3 separate regions of the Homo sapiens genome follow, and all the other regions are linked to region 3. The links come from fine-mapping of genetic effects on gene expression. A gene starts in region 3. Each other region holds a variant in brackets. All regions are shown on one strand. Distances are between the middles of the regions.

What was found.
Region 1: its variant is fine-mapped to the expression of PRKAR2B in whole blood (INTERVAL, PIP above 0.99).
Region 2: its variant is fine-mapped to the expression of PRKAR2B in whole blood (TOPMed, PIP 0.95).

Annotation. Positions count from the first base shown.
Region 1 is chr7:106,971,413-106,979,595 of GRCh38, forward strand. No RefSeq gene overlaps it. Among named protein-coding and RNA genes, the nearest start is that of PRKAR2B, 69 kb to the right of the region's middle. RefSeq lists cis regulatory regions at 6,902-7,573, 7,745-8,058. The variant T/A (reference allele first, on the strand shown) is at 3,718.
Region 2 is chr7:107,004,434-107,012,616 of GRCh38, forward strand. No RefSeq gene overlaps it. Among named protein-coding and RNA genes, the nearest start is that of PRKAR2B, 36 kb to the right of the region's middle. RefSeq lists cis regulatory regions at 2,575-3,341, 5,626-6,094, 5,827-5,950. The variant C/A (reference allele first, on the strand shown) is at 3,051.
Region 3 is chr7:107,040,997-107,049,179 of GRCh38, forward strand. PRKAR2B (protein kinase cAMP-dependent type II regulatory subunit beta) reads left to right here and starts at 3,709. Exons shown (of 11, transcript NM_002736.3): 1 at 3,709-4,218. The coding sequence starts at 3,912. RefSeq lists silencers at 3,462-4,021, 3,808-4,102.

The DNA.
Region 1 (8,183 bases), 70 kb before region 3:
AAACCAAGTCAGACACAAAAGAACAAGCCATACCGGCATCTGATTTCTCATTGGTTAACAGTGGGTGCTAAAAAAAATTGGACTTCTACTTTCAAAAGTCTAAGGAAAAATAATATTCCACCAGTTGTGGTGGGATTATATCTTGAAACATTAATCATATGTTTCCTGTGTGTTTCTCTCCCTCTTTACACCCCTAGGTGTAAAATAGATTTATAGATTTAAAGCTAAATAGAGTTGGAAAGACTATTTTTTTTCCCACTTGCACCCCTAGGGTCTTTTTATTCTTCTATTCAGTTCTACTCAGATAGGAATAAGTCACCCACTTTGGAAGCAGTAACAGAGACTATAAAATTAAAAGGGTGAGATATTTAGCCAAAGGATATGTCTGCATGATTGCAGAGTTAGTTTTTCCACTCTAAAGACTACATAGGCTGGGCCAGGTGCCGTGGCTCAGACCTGTAATCCCAGCGCTTTGGGAGGCTGAGGTGGGTGGACCATGAGATCAGAAGATCGAGACCATCCTGGCTAACACAGTGAAACCCCGTCTCTACTAAAAATACAAAAAAATTAGCCAGGCATGGTGGCAGCCGCCTGTAGTCCCAGCTTCTTGGCAGACTGAGGCAGGAGAATGGCATGAACCTGGGAGGCAGAGCTTGCAGTGAGCCGAGATGGTGCCACTGTACTCCAGCCTGGGCGACAGAGCAAGCCTCTGTCTCAAAAAAAAAAAAAAAAAAAAAAAAAAACTACATAGGCTGGTAGCAGTGGCTCACGCCTGTAATCTCAGCATTTTGGGAGGCCGAGGGAGCAGATCACTTGAGGTCAGGAGTTTGAGACCAACTGGGCCAACATAGTGAAACCTCATCTCTACCAAAATTACAAAAATTAGCCAGGTGTGTTGGCATATGCCTGTAATCCCAGCTTCTCGGGAGGCTGAGGTGGGAAAATCACCTGAACCTGGGAGGCAGTTCAAGCCATGATGTTTTCTTTATTCCTGTCTCCAAGTGGTCTTGTTACCGGGGGTCTTTGTTCTTGGAGCTCCCAAGTTGGTGGCGAGTGGCTCCCAAGATGGCGGCAAGCCTTTTGTTCTCCGACCTGGGTTTCTTGGCCTCACGGATTCTAAGGAATGGAACCTTGGGCCATGCAGTGAGTGTTACAGCTCTATTAGAAGTCATGGGTCACGGAAGAGAATGGTGGAACCCAGCGACTAGTGTTCGGCTCGATTAGGTCGAACCCCAGCACTTATGTAGGAACAATGGCAAGCCTTTAGCCCGATCTGGAGCAGCAATGGGCGCCTGGCTGGATCAGGAGCGCAGCAGACACCTGGCCGGATCCGGAGGGGTGAAAGTCAGTGGCGGGTCTGCAACCGCAGGGATCAGCAGTGGTAGATTGCAAGCAAAAGCTCAGCTTGAGCTGGAACAAACATGGACCAGAAGAGTGTACAGTTGCAAGATTTAATAGAGAGAAAACAGAGCTCCCATGCAACGGGAGGGGACCCAAAGGGGGCTGCCCACTCCCCGCTCGAATGCCTGGGGTTTATATCTCAATCATTGTCCTGCCCCCTGTGTTCGCAGGCAATATATAATTTGACTATTTCTTTACCTCCTGCTTTTAGCCTAATTTGTAATTTAGTGAGCCCTCTTTACTACCTGATTGGTCAGGTGTGAGCTGAGTTACAAGCCGCTTGTTTAAAGGTGGGTGTGGTCACCTTCCCCAGCTAGGCTTAGGAATTCTTAGTCGGCCTAGGAAATCCAGCTAGTCCTGTCTCTGTCTCTCTGCCTTTTTCTTCCCTCTGCAATCCAAATTTTATCTAGTGTTTTTTTGTTTTTGTTTTTTGTTTTTTGTTTTAGAGAAAGTCTTGCTGTGTCGCCCAGGCTGGAATGCAGTGGCACAATCTTGGCTCACTGCAGTCTGCCTCCTGAGTTCAAGCAGTTCTCATGCCTCAGCCTCCTGAGGAGCTGGGATTACAGGTGTACACCACCACGCCTGGCTAATTTTTTGTACTTTTAGTAGAAACAGGGTTTCACCATGTTGGCCGGGCTGGTCTCAAATTCCTGGCCTCAAGTGATCTGCCTGCCATGGCCTCCCAAAGGGTTGAGATTACAGGCGTGAGCCACCCCGCCTGGCCTAAAAAGGTGATACTGATGGAAAAGATGAAATAATCTTAACAGATGATATGATGGAAAGGATTTGTTGAAGCCAGGGCTTTAAGAAGAAAACAGAGAGGAGTACATTTAGAAATTTTAAAATAAAACTCGACAAGAAAAAGAAATCTAAATATGTAGCCAGCTCAAATGCATAATTGTTTTAAGACATTTTTTAATTGTAAGAAGAGAAAATTCATTTGACCTTGAGGAAAAGAAATTGTCCTACTGATCCTGAATGTATCATTTGGACCAGTAAAGAAGTAAAGTGTTTCTAGCATGTAACTTGAGCCAGCATTTGCACAGGACTAATAACACAAAAGCTGCTTTTTTGACTTGCAAGGAAGACTGGACTGTGGTAGCAGAGCAGAATACAAATAGGTAATCTTGATCATGCAAAAAGGTAATTGACAAAAAAAAGGGGGGGTGCCATGGAAGAAGGAGGAAAGCTAGAAAAAAGAACGGGGGCACCAACATCTTTTTATTAAGCTAAGACTCAATAGAAAGTGCTTAGAGTTGATGGCACAAGAAATAGAGGCATAAATAATTCATACTCACAAAGGTAATCAATGGAAAAGCTGAAAGAAAAATATGGCACAAGATAGACATCCAGCATTGAAAGGAGTAAAGGAGAACGTCAAATATGAGAACAGTTACAACAGAAATCTTTTTTGAATGTTGATTTAGGCAGTTCAGGCTGCTATAACCAGCTACCATAGACTGGGTGCCTTAAACAACAAACATTTATCTCTCAACAGTTTTGGAGGCTGGGAAGTACAAGATCAAGGTGCTCGTAGATCCCATATCTGATGACATCCTTCTTCTGGATTTGAAGAGGGCCATCTAATCATGGCGAAGGGAAAGAGAGGGAAAGCAAGCTGTCTCATGTCTCTTCTTGTAAGAGCATGAATCCCATCATGAGAGCTCCACCCCCACAAATTAATCACCTCCCAAAGGCCCCATCTCCAAACAGCATCCCACTGGGGATTAGGGTTTCAACATAGGAATTTTGGAAGAATACAAATATTTGGTCCATACCATTGACTGTGGAAAATAGATCTGAGGCTAGACAGAGGTGGGAAGAATTTTTTTTTTTTTTTTTTTTTTTTTTTTTGAGACAGAGTCTCACTCTGTTGCCCAGGCTGGAGTGCAGTGGCACGATCTCGGTTCACTGCAAACTCCGCCTCCTGAGTTCAAGCAATTCTCGTGCCTCAAGTAGCTGGGATTACAGGCACGTGCTACCACGTCCAGATAATTTTTTTGTATTTTTAGTAAAGATGGGGTTTCACCATGTTGGCCAGGCTGGTCTCAAACTCCTGACCTCAGGTGATCCGCCCACCTCGGACTCCCAAAGTGCTGGGATTACAGGCATGAGCCATTGCGCCCTGCCTATTATTTTTAATTAAAAACTCCTCTATGTTCTTTGATTTGTTTTCTTGAATATATACTTTTTTGACTAAAAAATTGTAAGATGTATTTCAGAAATCATCTCTTCTGTAAAACCTTCTCTGATGTCCCCTCCCCTGCTCCCACCAGCAGCACAGGGCACTTGCTTTTTTAAATTAATTAATTAATT[T/A]ATTTATTTATTTATTTATTTATTTTGGAGACAGAGTCTCGCTCTGTTGCCCAGGCTGGAGTGCAGTGGCACCATCTCTCAACCTCCGCCTCACGAGCTCAAGTGGTTCTCCTGCCTCAGCCTCCCGAGTAGCTGGGACTACAGACGCCCACCATGGCGCCCGGCTAATTTTTGTATTTTTAGTAGAGATGGGGTTTCACCATGTTGGCCAGGCTGGTCATGAACTCCTCACCTCAGGTGATCCGCCCACCTCGGCCTCCCAAAGTGCTGGGATTACAGGCGTAAGTCACCATGCCTGGCTGAGCAGGGCACTTTCATTTATGCCCTAGTTGTACTTATATCAGATGCTATGGACTGAATTTTGTCCCACTCACCCCATGCCCAGATTCATATGTTGAAGCTCTAATACTCACTTCCATGCGACTGTATTGGAGATAGCCTTCGGGGAGTTGGGGGTGGATTAAGGTTAAATGAGGGCATAAGGGTAGAGCCCTGATCTGTTAGAACTGGTGCCCTTATAAGAAGAGGAAGAGACACCAGAACTGTCTCTCTACCATGTGAGGACACAGCGAGATGGTGGGTGTCTGCCAGCCAGAAAGAGAGCCCTCACCAGAACCTGACAATGCTGGCACTGTGATCTCAGACTTCTCAAAACTCTGAGAAAATTAATTTCTACTGTTTAAGAAATACCCAGTCTATGATATTTTGTTATGGTGGCCTGAGCCAACTAATGCACCAGGTTCTACTGCCATGATTTAATATATCTATCTCCCCTTCTAGATTCTAGACTCCTTGAGAGCAAAGGCCCATATTAATATTAATAGAACTGCCATATAGTGAGGGCCAACTATGTGTCAGACACTGCACTAGGCTCTCACAACTATCTTGGGTGACAGAGCGAGACTCCGTCTCAAAAAAAAAAAAAAAATCCTAAAACTTCTTAATGTCAGAACTATTATCCTCACTTTACAGGTAAGAAACTAAGGCCATAGAAGGAGGCCTTTTTTTCTTACAGGTAAGGAAAAAAAAGGGCCATGGAAGGAGGAGGAAAGCTTAAAAAAAATGGGAGCACCAACATCTTTTTATTAAGCTGAGACTTAATAGGTAATGCTGAAAATTGATGGCACAAGAAACAGAGGCATAAATAAGAGGAGAAATTGTGTGATTTGTCTAAGTTCATTAAAATCCATTCATACCTGCCTCCACAACACCATACTGCCCTCCTTATTATCTGTATTTTCTTGCCTCCTAGCAATTCACACACAGCGGTTTTCAGAATTTGTTTGTTAATTTTCTGAATAAGTGGAATCCCTATCTCAGAAAGGGAAAAGGATGCTGTTTCTCTTTACAGTAATGAAATTCCTGAACTAACATTTTTGAACACTCTTCACCTCCCACGATAATAAAGTTTTAAATCCCTCTTTTAGACAGGCCTAACCACATAATTTGTGGATCTCAGTGCAAAATGAAATTGCAGGACTTACAGTTCAAAAATTCTTAAGAATTTCAAGATGGCAGCAACAGAGCGTTAAACCAAGCCCAGGACCTTCACAGGCATAGGCTGCATGCCCAAGAAGCCAGCCCTCCCCACCATGACATTTCCTCCATGCAACTCTCAGTCTCTAATCATTACATATGACATTGTTATTTCAGGTGGGATGAGAGACAGTGTGGCTGGGAGTGCATCACACACCTATTTTTCCTTTGTTTCTCTGTTTCCTAGAAATGATCCATTAGCCAGATCAAGAACTAACACTTGAGAGAGAATTCTCAACAGACACACCGAGTTGTGTTCCTAAACAACAAAAGCATTCGTGGAATGTGCAAAGGAGGCTGAGTGCCTATGATCCAAGTTTTGCTCCAGAAAGGGAAAACACATAAAACTCCACATAAATGTATCATAAAATGAGAAGATATCGTGATCATAGGAGATTAAAACACTTGGCCCATTGCCTTGCAATCAAAGTAATCTTTGAATACATTCAAGAGTTAGCACCAACATTGCCAACCCTAGTAGAATTGTTCCATAAGGAATGCTGCATTCTTAGCTAGTGGCTATGAAACTTTAAACCAAGAATTGTAAATCCAGTGCCCTTAGGAGCCAGACAGGTACTGTACATGAGTGAGGTCGGACACGTGGGGACTTGGGCAACTGGAGAGCACATCTGGCTCTCTAGGTGCAGCTCTTCCCCTAGTCCAGTCCGTCTGATTTTTTTTTTTTTTTTTTTTGAGACAGCTTCTCACGCTGTTGCCCAGGCCAGAACACAATGGGATGATCAAGCCATCCCCCCACCCCAGCCTCCGAAGTAGCTGCAACTACAGGCATGAGCCACCATGCCCGACTAAATTTTATTTTTTGTAGAGATGAGCTTTCACTATGTTGCCCAGGCTGGTCTTGAACTCCTGGACTCAAGTGATCCACCCACCTTGGCCTCCCAAAGTGCTGGGGTTACATGCACGAGACACCACGCCCAGAATCTATTCATAGGAGTGTGGGCCCGTGTGATCAGATCTCCTGAATTTTCAAGAAAATTTTAAAAATGGATATATCTCAAGTTGCAAATGTTAGTAACTCATTTTAATAATGAACCAAATCTGTTCTGGTCAAATAAAAGTTGTCTGGGGGGTTGGTAATGGTCATGTGCCCTTAGTTTAAGCTCTAAGTGACTAAGAAAACCCTCATTTTATCATACAGCTTCCTAAGAAAACTAAGTTTGGAGTCTGGGTGTGGTGGCTCACGCCTGTAATCCCAGCACTTTGAGAGGCTGAGGTGGGTGGATCACAAGGTCAGGAGTTCGAGACCAGCCTGGCCAACATAGTGAAACCCCATCTCTACTACAAATACAAAAATTAGCCAGGTGCAGTGGTATGCACCTGTAGTCCCAGCTACTTGGGAGACTGAGGCAGAAGAATCGCTTGAACCCAGGAGGTAGAGGTTGTGGTAAGCCGAGATCGCACCACTGCCCTCCAGTCTGGTCAACAGAGCAAGACTTTGTCTCAAAAAAAAAGAAAGAAAGAAAAGAAAAATATGTTTGGGACAAGAGCCCCATACACAAATTCGTCACAAGAATGCTCAGGTGGCCAGGACATTTGAGTTGGGAAGGACAAAGATTCTAAGGCATTGGTTCTCAAATCCACCACTCCAGGAGACATTTTTGGTTGTCACAAGTGGGAGGAGGATTAAAATGTTAGTGGCATCTCGTGGGGAGAGGCTACGGGTGCTGTTAAACATCCTGCAATGCAGACAACAGCCCTCACAACAAATATCATCCAACCATAATGGCAATAGTGCTGAGGTTGAGAAACTCTGCCCTAAGGTAATGATTTGTCTTCAGAATGCAGTCCTCAGGCCACAGATTAATGCAGATCCTTGATACCCAACCCAGCCTGCTGAATCATATACTCTGTAGGTAACACTAGATGTGTGCATTTTAGAACTCTTCCCAGGTGATGTAAATGCATGCTGAAATTTGAGAGCCATTGAACTGAAACATCAGAATTGAAGGAACTCATTTATATCTACAGAACATCCATTGTGTGTTTAGCAAGGATGCATGTTCAATGATAACAGAGAGAACTTTTACTTTTAAGCTGCAAAATACCGCACAGCCAAAGCAATGGTATCAGAATAGTCCGCCCACAGTCACAGCCTGTTCCAAAAAGATAGGGGGAGTTAGAAAGCAGAAAAACTGTCACCACGTCTTTAGCCTCCGAGTACAGAAAGTCATGTCTTAGACTGCTGATGGCATTTTTAAAAGTTTATCAACATGAAAACCAAAACAGCTACGAAAAATCACAATTTTAAAGGCAACCTATATTCCTCAATGTTGGAAATCCAGGCATTTGTAATTAACATACATAAAATTAAAGAGAATACATTATAGATATCCTTACTACGACCTTTAGTACACCTCATAGCAATTGGAAATTAGTTTAAGCTATATAAAGTCACCTGTTGTGCCAGTTTATTTTGTTATTTTTCATTAGCACCAAAAATATATATTTTAAAGGGAACACGGCCTGGAGCCCTCCCTCCTTTGTGGAGTGTATTAGAAGCTTCTTTTCTCCAGAATTGCTGTTACTCTTGTCTTTCCCTTTGCTGTGTGAAGTCACCACCAGAATGGGCAGCCATTACTGACGGAAGTGTGTCTGACCCCTGGAAAGATCTGAATGCATAGTGGGCCATTGTCCCTAGTGGACGTGAATGGAAAACTCACCCCAGAAGCATCAGCTTAGATAAGTGAGATTTTTTTCCCAGAGCCGATGCAATAAGAATTTCCAGGCTGTAAACCCAGGCAGGTCTGAGAGATGTAGCTTTCTGGGTAGTAAAATCATAGCCTTGTATGCTAGTGTATGTTTTTTTCTGATTTGGAGCATAAAAGGCATCTTTGCAGGGCTAGCAAGGTCATGGAACTCCAGAAAGGCCTCCCTAAAATAAAAGGGAGGCAACGGGGAGCCTTGCCATG
Region 2 (8,183 bases), 37 kb before region 3:
CTCTGTCTAAAAAACAAACACACACACACACAAACAAAAAAACAGCATTGTTGGTGAGATGCGATGTGACAGTAGAAAGAACACGGATTTTGATATTAGACAGATCCAAACTCATACTTTGGGTCCACTTTTTTTCCAGCAATATCACCTTGTGCAAGTCATTTTCTCTGTTTAACCCTCTATTTCTGCATCTGTTAAAAAAAAAAGTGTATTTGAACCTTTTCAATTCTAAGTTACTAAAAATGTGCCAGTATTTCAAAAAGCCAAAATTCACCTCCAAAAAAGCTTATGTAACGTATTTCAACACCCATAACCAATGCCAAGACATATTGGCAATGTCAACACACAGAGCAATACCTTTACTGATGCTCACTACTATTTATCAGGAAACAGATTAGTGCTTCTATGCATTTGTTTTTATTTGAAGTTTTCCTATGAAACTTGTGATACACTAATATCACCCGCATTATACAGGTGAAGCAGGTGAGACAAAAAGGTTAATAAATGCCTTCCTGAAAGTTCATTATTCAATCAACAGCAACATTGGCAGAGAATTGTCTCCTACTCTCCTCCCCCATTTGAAACAGAACATTTCTGTCTCAAAATGAAGGACTAGTGTACATTTGAGGCCTAACTGAATAGCTGAATAAATAGTAGCTACCATTATTATTGTTACTGTCAATATAATTTCCTTCCCCTTAGAGTTGATTATTTCCTTCTTTCCGTTCCAAAAACATTTTATTCAAATGTCTGTAATGGCATTTATTGTAAACCATATTCCCTCAAAAACAATGTGACTTCTAATTTTTCAACCTGAAGCATCCACAGTGTCAGTTACGGGGTAGGATTATAACATTAGAAAGAACAGGTGTCCTTGATTGTTAGGTTTGTCAGGGAAATAGAGAAACGGTGTGCAGAGATTTTGATACAACGACTCCATGCAATCTGCACACTCCTTTTGGGGGGCTCCCTCTGATGTTAGTTGACAAGCTTCACAAGGATGCAAAGTAAGACAAATTAGTCCATGATATACAATTAGGGGGGACATTACTATGAAGAAAGTCTTGCATTTTCCGAATAAATAATGGAAGGAGGGCAGTTTCATATTTAATGTTGCATTGGTATTCCTTACTGTAATTTATGTAATACAATTTTTCTATTTGCTTTCCTTTTTCTTTGAGATAGAGTCTTGCTCTGTCCCCTAGGTTGGAGTAGAGTGGCGCTATCTCGGGTCACTGCAACCTCTGCCTCCCGGGTTCAAGCGATTATCATGCCTCAGCCTCCCAAGTAGCTGGGACTACAGGCATGCACCACCACACCTGGCTAATTTTTGCATTTTTAGTAGAGACGGGGTTTCGCCATGTTGACCAGGCTGGTCTCGAACTCCTGACCTCAAGTGATCCACCCACCTCCGCCTCACAAAGTGCTGGGATTACAGGCATAAGCCACCGCACCCAGCCCATTTGCTTTCTTTATAGCAATCATCCTGAGGAAAGGCAGAGACCCTCTTTGGCAAGGACCTCTCTCCCAGGTATGATGCCTCCACCCTGTCCAAAGGTAGGCTTCAGCTTGGGAACTGTTGTATAATTGCTGTAAAGTTACATTGGCCCCAAATCTTTTTTTTTTTTTTTTTTTTTTTTTTGAGACGGAGTCTCGCTCTGTCGCCCAGGCTGGAGTGCAGTGGCACTATCTCAGCTCACTGCAAGCTCCACCTCCCGGGTTCACGCCATTCTCCTGCCTCAGCCTCCCGAGTAGCTGGGACTACAGGCGCCTGCCACCACGCCCAGCTAATTTTTTGTATTTTTAGTGGAGATGGGGTTTCACCATCTTGGCCAGGCTGGTCTTGAACTCCTGACCTCGAGGTCCACCCACCTCGACCTCCCAAAGTGCTGGGATTACAGGTGTTAGCCACTGCACCCGCCCCCAGCTGTGATTTCTGAAGTGGCTGTAAGAGAGATGTCTACCGTGTTAGCAGGAACCCTTCAGGTCTACCATGTTATGAGGGAGAGGGACGGCCGGGCGCGGTGGCTCACGCCTGTAATCCCAGCACTTTGGGAGGCTGAGGTGGGTGGATCACGAGGTCAGGAGATCGAGACCATCCTGGCTAACGCGGTGAAACCCCATCTCTACTAAAAATATTTTTTAAAAAAATTAGCCGGGCATGGTGGCTGGTGCCTGCAGTCCCAGCTACTCGGGAGGCTGAGGCAGGAGAATGGCGTGAACCTGGGAGGCGGAGCTTGCAGTGAGCCAAGCCTGGGCGACAGAGTGAGACTCCGCCTCAAAAAATAAATAAATAAAAATAAAAAATAAAAAGGAGAGGGACAATTATGTAGAATGGGCGACGTTTGGCTTGCTGCCCAAATACCTCCCCACTGGGCTAGCTGATGCTTGCAATTCTGTATGCAGTGTTTCATTCCTTAGTTCCCTAATGAAAATACCCCTGAGAAAGAAAACACATGGAACCTTTTTCGTTATTTGCTTTTTCTGCTTCTTTGGAGAAACGAGTTGATTAAATTATTTCTTGACAACAGTTTAAAAAAGAGAATAAGGACTATTGAGTAAGGAGAAAACATAAGAGGGAAAAATCACTAGCTAGCTTCTCTTGAGCCATGTGTTGTAGCTAGGTCCCTCAGCCCTGAAAATGTCCTCACCGTGAACAGAAAAGCATTCTATAATGAGTCCTTCAAAGGAATTAGTGTGTTAGCTAGATGTGGAGATAAAAGGTCATTTTCTGCAAGTCCCCCATAACTGAAGGTTAGTAAATGCCTTCCTGAAAGTTCATTATTCAGTCAACTGTCTTTTCCTAAAAATTCTGACAATGACTCACATCGTAGAGGCTTTGGACAGATATCCCTATGAGATGTCTTAAATTCTTAGTGTGGTCATTCTACCTGAGGTAAGAGTGGAAGCTGTTTTTGCCAGAAACGCTGGAGATACGAGACCAGTTCATCTTCCATAACATTGTTCTTAAAAAAGTTTTCTGATAAATCCTTCAGAGCTGCTATTTTTCTCTCCTGCTGGTAGAGCCAGGGCTTTAAGGCCCAGAATCT[C/A]AGGCTGGCCTGCTTCCCCTTGTCTTTATCAGTGTGACTGCAGCAGCAGTTACAACAGTGGCAGCTTCGATAGCCTTCCCTATCTCGGTCCCTCTTCCCCTACTTCTAAACTTGGATGTGATCACAGCTTTTACTTTCAGAGACAACTATGGGAACATGACAGCTCAGGGTGTTATTTTACTGTAATGCAAAACTCATTCAGTGATACTTCCAGCAGTAAGGAAAAACAGTATTGCAATAGTTCCATCATAGTTGAAATTTCCATGCAGCTATGTGAGAAAGGCCACAAAAATGAAGGTGATACTTGCTTTTAAAAAAAAATACCTGGCTACTTATACATTGTTGGGAGTCAAAAAAATAAAAATAAAAAGGGAATTCAGTTTGTGTTTGAATCATGGTCCATATGAGATGTTCTGGGTTATAATCTTTAGCTAAAATATTTTTCTCATTTTGCTCAATATCTGTATGTAAACTAAGTTGACATGGTTCACAGAACATCTGGAACCTTTTATCTAGTTCTCAGCCATAATCTAGAACTGGCCTCCATTTTCCATGGGAACCAAGGAATGCTATGAATACTATGCAGCCTGACAGCTTTATACTGTCACGGGAAGCATGGCAGCTCAGGAAGCCCATGCAACTCCAGCCCACATTTCTCAGGGCTCCTTTCAAGTTCCCCTGCCTTGACTCCTATTGAGCTCTCTCCTTGAGTCACCCATCTTATTCTACCTTGGCTCTCTAGAAACACACACTTTCACGTATGACCCAGCTATCTCTAGATACTCTAAAAACTTTTTTTTTTTTTAATTTTAGACAGAGTTTCCCTTTTGTCACCCAGGCTGGAGTGCAATAGTGCAATCTCGGCTCACTGCAAGCTCCGCTTCCCCGGTTCAAGTGATTCTCCTGCCTCAGCCTCCCAAGTAGCTGGGATTACAGGTGTGCACCACTAGGCCCGGTTAATTTTTTTGTATTTTTAGTAGCGACGGGGTTTCACCATGTTGGCCAGGCTGGTCTCGAACTCCTGACCTCAGGTAATGCGCCTGGCTTGGCCTCCCAAAGTGCTGGTATTACAGGCGTAAGCCACAGTGCCCGGCCACTCTAAGAGCTTTATAGACATTTTCTTTCTTTTTTTTTTTTTTTTTTTTTTTTCTGAGATGGAGTTTTGCTTTCTTACCCAGGCTGGAGTGCAGAGGTGGGATCTCAGCTCACTGCAACCTCTGCCTCCTGAGTTCAAGTGATTCTTCTGCCTCAGCCTCCCTAGTAGCTGGGACCACAGGTGTGTGCCACCATGCCTGGCTAATTTTTGTATTTTTAGTAGAGATTGGGTTTCACCATGTTGGTCAGGCTGGTCTCGAACTCCTGACCTCAGGTGATCCACCCACCTCGGCCTCCCAAAGTGCTGGGATTACAAGCATGAGCCACTGCGCCTGGTCCTTTATAGACATTTTCTTATTCAATCTACAGCACCTCTAATAGACCCGTGGGAAACACAGTTTTATTATTACCACAAAGAAAACTAGGTGCACATAGTCTGAAATATTTGCACACAGCAAGCTGATAAAGCCGCTGAGAAGGAATCAAAGCCTAATCCATTAAAATATAATTACCTTTTTTTTGAGGACTCAAGATTTTTTTTGGTGTGCTGTGGTGAAAGTATGGGTAAATGCGGCTGGTCGCGGTGGCTCATCCCGGTAGTCTCAACACTTTGGGAGGCCGAGGAGGGTGGATCATGAGGTCAGGAGATCGAGACCATCCTGGCTAACATGGTGAAACCCCGGCTCTACTAAAAATACAAAAAATTAGCCGAGCGTGGTGGCGGGCGTCTGTAGTCCCAGCTACTCCGGAGGCTTAGGCAGGAGAATGGCGTGAACCCAGGAGGCGGAGCTTGCAGTGAGCCAAGACTGCGCCAAGACTGCGCCACTGCACTCCAGCCTGGGCGACAGAGCGAGACTCCATCTCAAAAAAAAAAAAAAAAAAAAAAAAAAAAAAAAAAAAAAAATCCTGGATAAATGCTACCAAGTGAATGGAAAAAAGGACTTTAACCTTTCTAAGAAAATTCAGCAGGCATTAGATTGTCACAATTAGAATTGGTTGTCTTTTCCAAATTTAGGTGACCTTTTTTAAGTGGAGCAACTGAAATCTAATTAAACACAAAGAAGTTGAGGTTTCACTCAAGAACCAATTTCTAAGTTCAGAGATCATTTCAATGCCAAGCTCCTGATTACTATAAACTGAAAAAATAATTAACAGAGGATTTTTAAAATGTTGGATGTGCATGCTAAAGTGTTTGATATATTCTCATCAAGTGTATCTTCGGTGATTTTATTAGCTACTTTTAGATATCAAAGAAGTATAAAAACTTGAAAAATAAAGTCATTGATAATGAATGCTGCAATCAATTTTTCCTGGCAGAACAAGTCATCAGATTATACAGGGAGATAAAAATGTTCAGTACCAGATTGTACTTTTCATTTATGACAAAAGAAGGGGTGCGGATCAACAACTGGCTTTATAGCCAATGTCAACACCAAGAACTCCACAGAGAGGATTAGCATAAGAAGATCTGTGAAGGATCCAGCATGTTCTTTTTCCCTAGACCGATAGAAGCAAATGAAAAACAAAACAAAACAAAAAACCTCCAGGCCTGGTGCGTCCCTGTTTGCCGCAATACCTCACAATAAGGAGGGTTTAGGCATAAAAATAAAAACAATTCTTTAACTTACATGAAGCATAAAGTGTTTTCAAAGCACTTTCATATCCATTTTCATTTTGTCCTCATCCATTCCTATTGACCATTATCTCCCTTTTCCAAATGCAAACACAACTCAGTCTCTCTGAAATTCAGACTGCAACTACTCTTCAACACCACGGGATGCATGTTGAGATAAAATCCGGATCTGGGGCAGATGGAAGAAAAATACCGTTGGCCCTAAAAAGACAAGAGTCACCAGCATGACGCTTTTTTTTTTTTTTTTTTTGAGACAGAGTCTCACTTTGTCGCCCAGGCTGGAGTGCAGTGGCATGATATTGGCTCACTGCAACCTCCACCTCCCAGGTTGAAGCGATTCTCCTGCCTCAACCTCCCAAGTAGCTGGGATTACAGGCATGCGCCATGATGCCCAGTTAATTTTTGTATTTTTAGTAGTGACAAAGTTGCACCATGTTGGTCAGGCTGGCCTCAAGTAATCCGCCCACCTCGGCCTCCCAAAGTGCTGGGATTACAGGCGTGAGCACCACACCGAGTCCACCATGAGGCTTTTATAAGGATGGACAGGCTACTGACTTCTGGGTGGGGATTAAAGACAGGATTCTGTGCCATCCTGCCCCCAAATCCCTCCTCTACAGACTGAGTCACTGTATCTGATTAAGCAGAATGTGCATTGTTGTGAAATAGGTCCCATGAAGGATGCAAACATTCCAGTTTTACACCTCAACTCCAAGTGCACACAATCAAAACCACTGTAGAGAATGTTATATGACAATCATCATATCTTATAGTGGATCAGTTGCGGTACACAGACTTCATTATGAGGTCTACCATGAGAAACTTTATATTCTGACTTAAAAATGTCCCATAGTGGGCCGGGCGTGGTGGCTCACGCCTGTAATCTCAGCTCTTTGGGAGGCCGAGGCGGGCGGATCACAAGGTCAGGAGATCGAGACCATCCTGGCTAACACGGTGAAACCCCGTCTCTACTAAAAATACAAAAAATTAGCCGGGCGTGGTGGCAGGCACCTGTAGTCCCAGCTACTCGGGAGGCTGAGGCAGGAGAATGGCTTGAACCTGGGAGGCAGAGATTGCAGTGAGCCGAGATCGTGCCACTGCACTCCAGCCTGGGCAACAGAGCGAGACTCCATCTCAAACAAACAAACAAACAAACAAAAAGTCCCTTAGTGATTAGTTCCTCCCTGACCTCATTAAGTTAAAACGAGACACATTCAACATTTTCCAAGAAATGAAGCATGAGTCCATTTTACACAGCAAACAATGCCAAGATAACTAGGCAGCGGGTTTCAGAGAAATATGCCTCCATTTTGAAATTGAGCCAGAATTCATACCTTATGCTCCTGAAAAAAATTATTTTTACCAAAACTACATGAAGAACTGTCTTGATTTTATTTGGAAAATTCCCAATTTTGTGTTGCAGTGGTTATGTGTGAAACCTAAATGTCTATTGCAAAGAGTAACTTGCTTTATAAACTATGTTGGTAAACCAATATGGTTTGTTGTTTGTTTTTTTGTTTTTTTGTTTTTTGTTTTTGAGACGGATTCTCACTCTGTCACCCAGGCTAGAGTGCACTGGCATTATCTCAGCTCATTGCAACCTCCGCCTCCCAGGTTCAAGTGATTCTCCTGCCTCAGCCTCCCAAGTAGCTGGGACGACAGGTGCCCGACACCACACCCGGCTAATTTTTGTATTTTTATAGAGACGGGGTTTCACCCTATTGGCCAGACTGGTCTCAAACTCCTGACCTTGAGATCCTCCTGCCTTGGCCTCCCAAAGTGCTGGGATTACAGGTGTGAGCCACTGTGTTTTTTGTTTTTTGTTTTGAGGCAGGATCTTGCTCTCTTGCCCAGGCTGGAGTGCAGTGGTGCTGTCACAGTTCACTGCAGACTTAACCTCCTGGGCTCAAGTCATTCTCCTGCCTCAGCCTCTTGAGTAGCTGGGTCCACAATATGCCTGGCTAATTTTATTTTTTAGTTTTTAAAGAGACAACATCTTATCATGTTGCCCAGGCTGGTCTTGGACTCCTGAGCTCCAGTGATCCTCCCTCCTCAGCCTCCCAGAATGTTGGGATTACAGGCATGAGCCACGGTGCCTGGCCACCAATTTGTTTAGTAATCATGTTGGGGGCAGCATCATGTCTCCAACATGCCCCAAAGGAAGTGTTTTCCTATTTTATGTACAGGTGTAGATTTCTGCCTATCACTGTAGCATTTTTCATGTTAAAGTTTCAGAACACTTTGATATACTATTGTTTGCCCATTTTTTACAAAAAGAGAAACTGAAGCATTAAAGATCATACAGTAATTAGAGACAGTTTAGAGCAGCAGTTCTCAAAGTGTGGGCAAGTTATCCTTATGAGTTCCTGAGAACTTTCATGGGGTCTGCAGGTCAGTCCTTCTTTTTC
Region 3 (8,183 bases):
TGTGTAACAGATTATCTCAAAACCTAGAGGCCTACAACAACCTTTTTATTATGCTCACAGATTCTGTGGAACAAGGCTTCAGCCAGGGCATCCAGTACAGGGCTGGCTTCTTCTATCATGCTGACTTGACTTTTACAATGTTCTATTGGTCAAAGAAATCACAAGCACATTCAGATTCAAGGGGAGGGGAAATAAGACTTCAATTCATTAGTGAGTAGTGGCCACGCCACACTGTAGGAGATATTGTTGTAGCCGTCTTTGGAAAATGCAATTTGCCACACCAAAGGTGTGGCCATGTTGACTAAGTTCTAGCCAAGAGGATAGAAGAGGAATTGTGTTTAACTTCCTAGAAGGAAGGGAGGGGAGGGGAGCTTCCCTTCTCTTTTTCACTTTCCTCTTAGCTAAAATATGACTGGCCCTGGAGCAGCCATTTTGGACCACAGACAGGATCATAGAGCAATGAGCTGGAGGGAGCCTGGGTCCCTGATGATCATGGAGTACCACACTGTGTCCGGAATTGGTGGGTTCTTGGTCTCACTGACTTCAAGAATGAAGCCGCAGACCCTCGCGGTGAGTGTTACGGTTCTTAAAAGTGGCGTGTCCAGAGTTTGTTCCTTCTGATGTTCGGATGTGTTCGGAGTTTCTTCCTTCTGGTGGGTTCGTGGTCTCACTGGCTCAGGAGTGAAGCTGCGGACCTTCGCGGTGAGTGTTACAGCTCTTAAGGCGGCGCATCTGGAGTTCCTCCCGGTGGGCTCGTGGTCTCGCTGGCTTCAGGAGTGAAGCTGCAGACCTTCATGGTGAGTGTTACAGCTCATAAAGGCAGTGTGGACGCAAAGAGTGAGCAGTAGCAAGATTTATTGCAAAGAGCAAAAGAACAAAGCTTCCACACTGTGGAAGGGGACCCGAGCTGGTTGCCACCACTGGCTCAGGCAGCCTCCTTTTATTCTCTTATCTGGCCCCACACACATCCTGCTGATTGGTAGAGCCCAGTGGTCTGTTTTGACAGGGCACTGATTGGTGTGTTTACAATCCCTGAGCTAGACACAAAGGTTCTCCATGTCCCACCAGATTAGCTAGATACAGAGGGTCCACACAAAGGATCTCCACGTCCCCACCAGAATAGCTAGATACAGAGTGGCGATTAGTGCATTCACAAACCCTGAGCTAGACACAGGGTGCTGATTGGTGTGTTTACAAACCTTGAGCTAGATACATAGTGCCGATTGGTGTATTTACAATCCCTTAGCTAGACACAAAGGTTCTCCACGTCCCCACCAGACTCAGGAGCCCAGCTGGCTTCACCCAGTGGATCCCGCACTGGGGCTGCAGGTGGAGCTGCCTGCCAGTCCCGCGCTGTGCGCCTGCGCTCCTCAGCCCTTGGGTGGTCGATGGGACTGGGCGCCGTGAAGCAGGGGGCGGCGGTCGTCGGGGAGGCTCGGGCCGCACAGGAGCCCACGGAGTGGGGGGGAGGCTCAGGCATGGCGGGCTGCAGGTCCCGAGCCCTGCCCCGCGGGAAGGCAGCTAAGGCCTGCGAGAAATTGAGCACAGCAGCTGCTAGCCCAGGTGCTAAGCCCCTGACTGCCCGGGGCCGGTGGGTCCGGCCGGCCGCTCCGAGTGCGGGGTCTGCCGAGCCCACGCCCACCCGGAACTCGCGCTGGCCCACAAGCACCACGCGCAGCCCCAGTTCCCGTCCGCGCCTCTCCCTCCACACCTCCCCGCAAGCTGAGGGAGCTGGCTCAGGCCTTGGCCAGCCCAGAAAGGGGCTCCCACAGTGCAGCGGCAGGCTGAAGGGCTCCTCAAGCGCTGCCAAAGTGGGAGCCCAGGTAGAGGAGGCGCCAAGAGCGAGTGCGGGCTGTGAGGACTGCCAGCACGCTATCACCTCTCAATACCAACTCTGAACTGCCCACATTTAGATTCCAGAGAAATAAATCTTAAGCTATTGTATTTCGCATTTTCTGCCACATGTGAGCAGTGTTTATCATAATTAATACAAATATTATCACAAATTTAGACAGGTGATACACATGCATCTTAGATTACCAGATCCGTAAAAATAATAATGCTTACACGGTAGAGAGTAGTACTAACATTGTGCTCCAACCGGTGACATGTGAGGCTCACCATATTTTATAAAAGTTTAATTCTTTTTTTTTTTTTTTGAGACGAAGTCTCACTCTTGTCCCCCAGCCTGGAGTGCAACGGCACTGCACGATCTCGGTTGACTGCAACCTCCGCCTCCTGGATTCAAGCGATTCTTCTGCCTAAGCCTCCTGAGTAGCTGGGATTACAGGTGCCTGCCACCATGCCCGCTAATTTTTGTATTTTTAGTAGAGATGGGGTTTCACCATGTTGGCCAGGCTGGTCTTGAACTCCTGACCTCAGGTGATCCGCCCACCTCGGCCTCTCAAAGTGTTGGGATTACAGGCATGAGTGAGCCACTGCGCCCGGCCAAAAGTTTAATTCTTAAAATGCTCGACACAATTAGAAGCACTTAACTACTGTATATTTAAAGCAACGTAACATTATTACTATAAAGTTGTTAAGAAATGAAAATAGAGAAATACATTGGCTCATGGAGTCAATACAGGATGCATCATTAACAAAGGGTTAACATCAAGATCCATTTTTACAAGAGGGACTAGTTCGTTACATCTCTGATTTCTAGACTTGGAGTTTCCCCAGTCATGTGTTTACTCTTCCGTGGGTGGGAAGATAAATCAGAATAACCAAGTGAGCTTGCTCTTGAAATATTTTATTTACAATGATATGATAATTGTAGAAAATGAAGTATGCGTACTTAAATAGAATTTAATTGACAAAAGACAATTTTCTCTACTTCAAAATTGTAAACATTTGCAAAGTAAGCCTCATTTCAAAGTCAAAGCCTTCTACTTTAAAAGCACACATTAGTAATTCTATTTTTCTTTATACTGAAGTATTTCAATTTTTGGACATACAAGTCAAAAATCATTCAAAGCATAAAGGAAAGTTTCAAAATAATAAGCGCCTCATCCTGCACTATCCTATTTAAAAGAGATCAACTAACTTTGATAGGTGCCTCTCAATAAATGGTGCCTTTGTCTCAATAAATAGTAAATGCGTGGAGTGCACAACGGAATAGCATCAGTAAGACGAAACATAATAAACAGGATGGATCGGGAAAGGCTGGATAAAATGTGGGGAAGAAAAAGAAAGACGTCACAAAGATGGGGTAGCATTTCTTTGTCCAAAAGAGAACCAGTACCACCATAAGACTTTAAACAAAGGACATTAGCAACACTTATCATGCAACTAGATTCTAGAAGGAAAATAAAATGCCACTACTAAGGTGGAGGCTGAAGTTTCAAGACAAATCTCCTGGCACCACCTCTGCGGGGGTTCACCATGGCGAATGACGCCTGGGAAGCGGGGCGAGTGGCCAGCCCGCTCCTGGACGCGCGGACAGGTGGACACGAAGGCGGCCTCGCTGGGCCTCCCTCCGCCTCTCCCGGCCCGGGCGCGCAGCCCTGCGGTGGTCTGACAGGCGGGTGCGCGGCGCCAGCCAGCGGAGGTTGCCATGGTTTCCGGGGGTCACGTGGGCGCGCTCTCCTGCGCCCCCTCCCGCGCACCGCGGCGGGGCGGGGGCGGGGCGCCCGGGCGGGGGAGAGGCGCGGCCGCGGCTGGAGCGGGAGGAGCAGGAGATGCTGCCAGCCCTCCCGGGGCCGCGCTCGCTCAGCCGCCGCCACCACACGGAGCAGACGCGCGCCGGGAGCCGCGGGCCGGGCCAGCCGGGCCGCCGGGGCCCAGTGCGCCGCGCTCGCAGCCGGTAGCGCGCCAGCGCCGTAGGCGCTCGCTCGGCAGCCGCGGGGCCCTAGGCCGTGCCGGGGAGGGGGCGAGGGCGGCGCCCAGGCGCCTGCCGCCCCGGAGGCAGGATGAGCATCGAGATCCCGGCGGGACTGACGGAGCTGCTGCAGGGCTTCACGGTGGAGGTGCTGAGGCACCAGCCCGCGGACCTGCTGGAGTTCGCGCTGCAGCACTTCACCCGCCTGCAGCAGGAGAACGAGCGCAAAGGCACCGCGCGCTTCGGCCATGAGGGCAGGACCTGGGGGGACCTGGGCGCCGCTGCCGGGGGCGGCACCCCCAGCAAGGGGGTCAACTTCGCCGAGGAGCCCATGCAGTCCGACTCCGAGGACGGGGAGGAGGAGGAGGCGGCGCCCGCGGACGCAGGGGCGTTCAATGGTGAGGACCAGACCCCCCACTTCGCGCCCCCGGATCCCCTCGCTGCCCCCCACCGCTCCCCGCTGTGCTCTCGGATCTTGCCGCTTTGCGCACCCACCTCTCCCCGCATTCTCCACCTTTCCCTACCTTCCCATCTCGCCCACCCCCTCAGCATCCATTTCTGTCTCTCCCACTCGCCCACCTTCCTACTCCGCTCTCTGTCATACCCTCTTCCCTTCCTCTAGAGGTGGGAGAGCTGGGATGTTACGCTTCCCTCTTACCCTTTGCCCCCTCTGCCTGGGCCGGTTGGGGTGGGCATCTGCTAGAAAGACAACTTTCGCTGTGGTTGGAGGTATTTCGCTTAGAGGATACCATTGTGCATAAAGAAACTGGCCCGCTTGGCGTCTTCTTTCAGCCCTTGTATTTATTAATGGAATGTCGAAAGAGAAAAGGAGAACCGTGTTTAATATGATTGGCTTTACTGTTGTTAGGACGGTAGATTCGCTAAAAGAAGCATGAAATTGGACTCACTGGGGCAGAACAAAATTTATGGCCAGTAGCTCTGACATTCTTGGAAATAAGAGTTATCTATTATTTTCCAATTTACCAATACCGTGTTGTGTTATTTTTGGACACGTAACAAAGGATTCTATTTAGTCTGAAACCCACGGGGGTCTTTGGAACGAGGAAATGGGTTAATGGTTTGCTTTTTATATAAAAGACATATTGAATGATTTGGTGCTTTATTTTTTTAAAAGTGTATGAGAAAAACACTGTAGGAAGTTCTGAAAGCTTGTTGGTTGTCTTTAGAATGAAAAGCCAGTGAGTAATTGTAAGGATTGTGCCAGACAGTAGAGCTAGAAAGAATGAATGGGAAAGAAAAAGGAATTTTCTCAAATAGCTGCTCCTGGCAAGTCCCACCCCTTCTGCTTACAACCCTCTTTCCCTAACACACCCAGACACACACCCTCATTTACAGCCCCTTGTATTACACAACATGCCCAAATCTCATTTTTATGGCAACCCAAGCTAAAATACCATGGAGTGCAGTGTGCAAGTGTTTTCTCTTTGTGGTGTAAGGCAAACATGCATGCAGCATTGCACCAGCTTTTATTTATTTACACTGCTTGTGGTTTGTGTGTCCGCAGTGTATTTCATAAAATGAAAACATTTAAAAGTGTCATTTCATTTCCTTGTGTATGCTCCTAGGAAGATGTTTCTTTTCTTTGCAGGATTACATGTTGAAATGGATTATAAAATTAGTGTATTTTTAGTTTCTCCAAAAGAATCCCAGAAACCCTGGAAATTAGTGCGCTGTGAAGATAAAAGTGAAGCTTGTTACTTACAATTTTAATTTTGGACTTCTAAATGTTTCCCCAAGAGGATAAACATAGTCTTAATAATTCTTTTTGCACAAGAATCGAATCAAAAGCTTTTCCTACCAGAAACGAGAAAGAGAAAAGAATGCATGTTTTAAATAGGTAAGAAGCAGCAGCCAGTAACGGATGACAGAAAGGGCAGAGATATCTAATACTTCTTTTATGCTCCTGACATGTTCGTGCACACACACAAAGGGGAAAAAAAGGACTCTTTTCCCAGGTTGGAGAAAACTAGGAACTAAGGGGCTTGGTAAAGACCATATATATATATATATTCTGTATGATATGTTGTTAATATAATCAAAATATTTTGTTTGTATAATGCATTTGTTGAAGTACTTTGCATTGATGATTGCATTTTCTCCTTATAACAATATATTGCGCACAGAAAAGATTCCATTTTCATTTTGTAGTGAAGAAATAAGCCGTTAACTTCTGAACAGCAGGGGTCATTTTATATGGCTTTATATTCTCCAAGGCACCTTTGCTGTAAAAATTGCTCAGTGTGACTTAAACAAGTTAAACTTGTTAAACAATTGCACTATTTACTCCCTAGCCTCACCCCCAAGGACTTTAAAACTTTTTGACTGCAACCAAATACAATTTGATCATTATCCAGGAGGCACATACATCTGTATAACAGAAACTTTGGCAATAGTACAGGTACTTCCTTCTGTCAGATGCAGTGCTTTTTGATATTTCCTATTTGAATCAGTTATTTCTCCCTATTTTAAATTGTATTGAGACCTCCAGTTGAAAAACATTTAATTATAGGCTACAAAGTGATTGGCAAGGTTTCTTGTAAAGGGCCGGTTAGTAAGTGTTTTAGACTTAGGGCAACATGTGGTCTTGATCACTTCTTCTTCAGTTTTTTTTTTTAAACACATACACCTTCTGAGGGTTGCGGTTGTACAAAATTAGCTGCAGATCAAGGCCATAGCTTGCCGACCCCTGGTTAGAAGAAAAAAAAAAAAGTCAAAATAGTACCATTGGGGGAAAAAACAGGAGTGATCCTAAAAAGTATGAGCCTATCAGTTTGACATCTATGTCCAGAAATGTGTCTCATTAGAAAAGAACCCCAGATACTGGGCAATTCTGGCATAGTAAAGAATAAGGATTGGAAAACAAGTCTTAATTTACTATGACACAGCACAAGACCTGCTGGGTCAGTAATTCTGAAATTTTCATAGATATCTCAAGGAAGTTTGATTCAGAAATGACCATTACCCTGTACCATTTTTGGAGAGCTTTTTTAAATAGGTTGAGATGGGACATGATATCCTTTTCTTCCCCCTCAGTAGACATCCCACCCAGGTCATTCTGATATCAATAGTTCCATGACTGTACTTTGGAAAACATTAACAGATAGTGATAATACTATATTCTTCTTAACATTTAAAACATAATTGCCGTTAGTTGACAATTGCTGTGTGCTGTCTAAATGCTTTAATTTTTTTGTCTCAGCTTTATGAGAACGATAAGGCCATCACTTGCCCAGTGTTTCACGTGAGCTGCAAAATCAAGATTGGGATACAGGTGGACCTGGCTTCATCCCTGTGCTCTTGACTGCCCGATTCTATCTCCAGATGGGGCTGGGGCTAGCATAACCTGAGTATCCCTTATATGTCAAGCTCTATTTGGGACCCTTAATGTGTTTTATTGTTAAAGCTCTGAAAAATTAACTTGTCCAAGGTCACACATAAAACGAGTAAGTAGGGAAGCCTGATTTCTTACTCTTATGTATCTAACCTTGAAGCCCAGGATGATCAGGGAGTTCTTAAATGGAATTTGTTCTGTGGGCTGACTCACAAGTCAGGTTTTCCTGTTTTTTTTTCTTTTAGTAATGCTGATGGATTTGCATTGTTGGTTCATATCCTCTCTTGTGAATGTCTTTAACGTAAGTGATGGTATTTATGAGAGGTTGGAGTTAAAAGGCAAGTTTTTGACCATGCAACTTGTGCCCATTGACAAACGTAGGACAAACGTAGGGATCAAGCATGTGACCTTGACCTTATAATGTGGTGGTTTAATCAAATAAGCCAGGCACCTGCAGTTAGCTGGAAAAAATGTTGTCTGGCCAGGGGTCGGTGATTTTTGAGGGTCAGGTGGTGTGGCTGTAGGTGGCGCTAGAGCAAACAGTCAGATGGGTGAAGGTCATCTTCTTTCCTACCTTTCCAAAGGATCCCTTCCTCTTCTAATAGCTTTCTTTTCCCTCTCCTATTCTCTTCCAGTCTTATAAATTCTAATTGTTACTTTCCATTTGCTATCAATTCTGGTCGAAAGAGCAAGCTTTAGATGTTAGAATGATAGTGGCTTATGGTGACCCTTTCTAGGGAAACTCTCAAAGGCCAGAAAGAAGCCATAATGGAAACCTCTTGGCATCTACTCTGTCTCCCTCTTCCCCGTCCTAGAGAAAGCAAATACAGTTTGACATGTCATGTCTGAAAGGGTAGCATCCCTAGGCCTTGAATTTCTTAGAAGGTTTACGGTAGGCTATAGCATTGCATCAGTACTAGTTTGGAGTAAAATCTGTGGTAATTCATGATTTTATATAGGCATCATCAAGAGATCTTGTGTTGCCCCATAATTTCTTCAGTGGAATTGCTG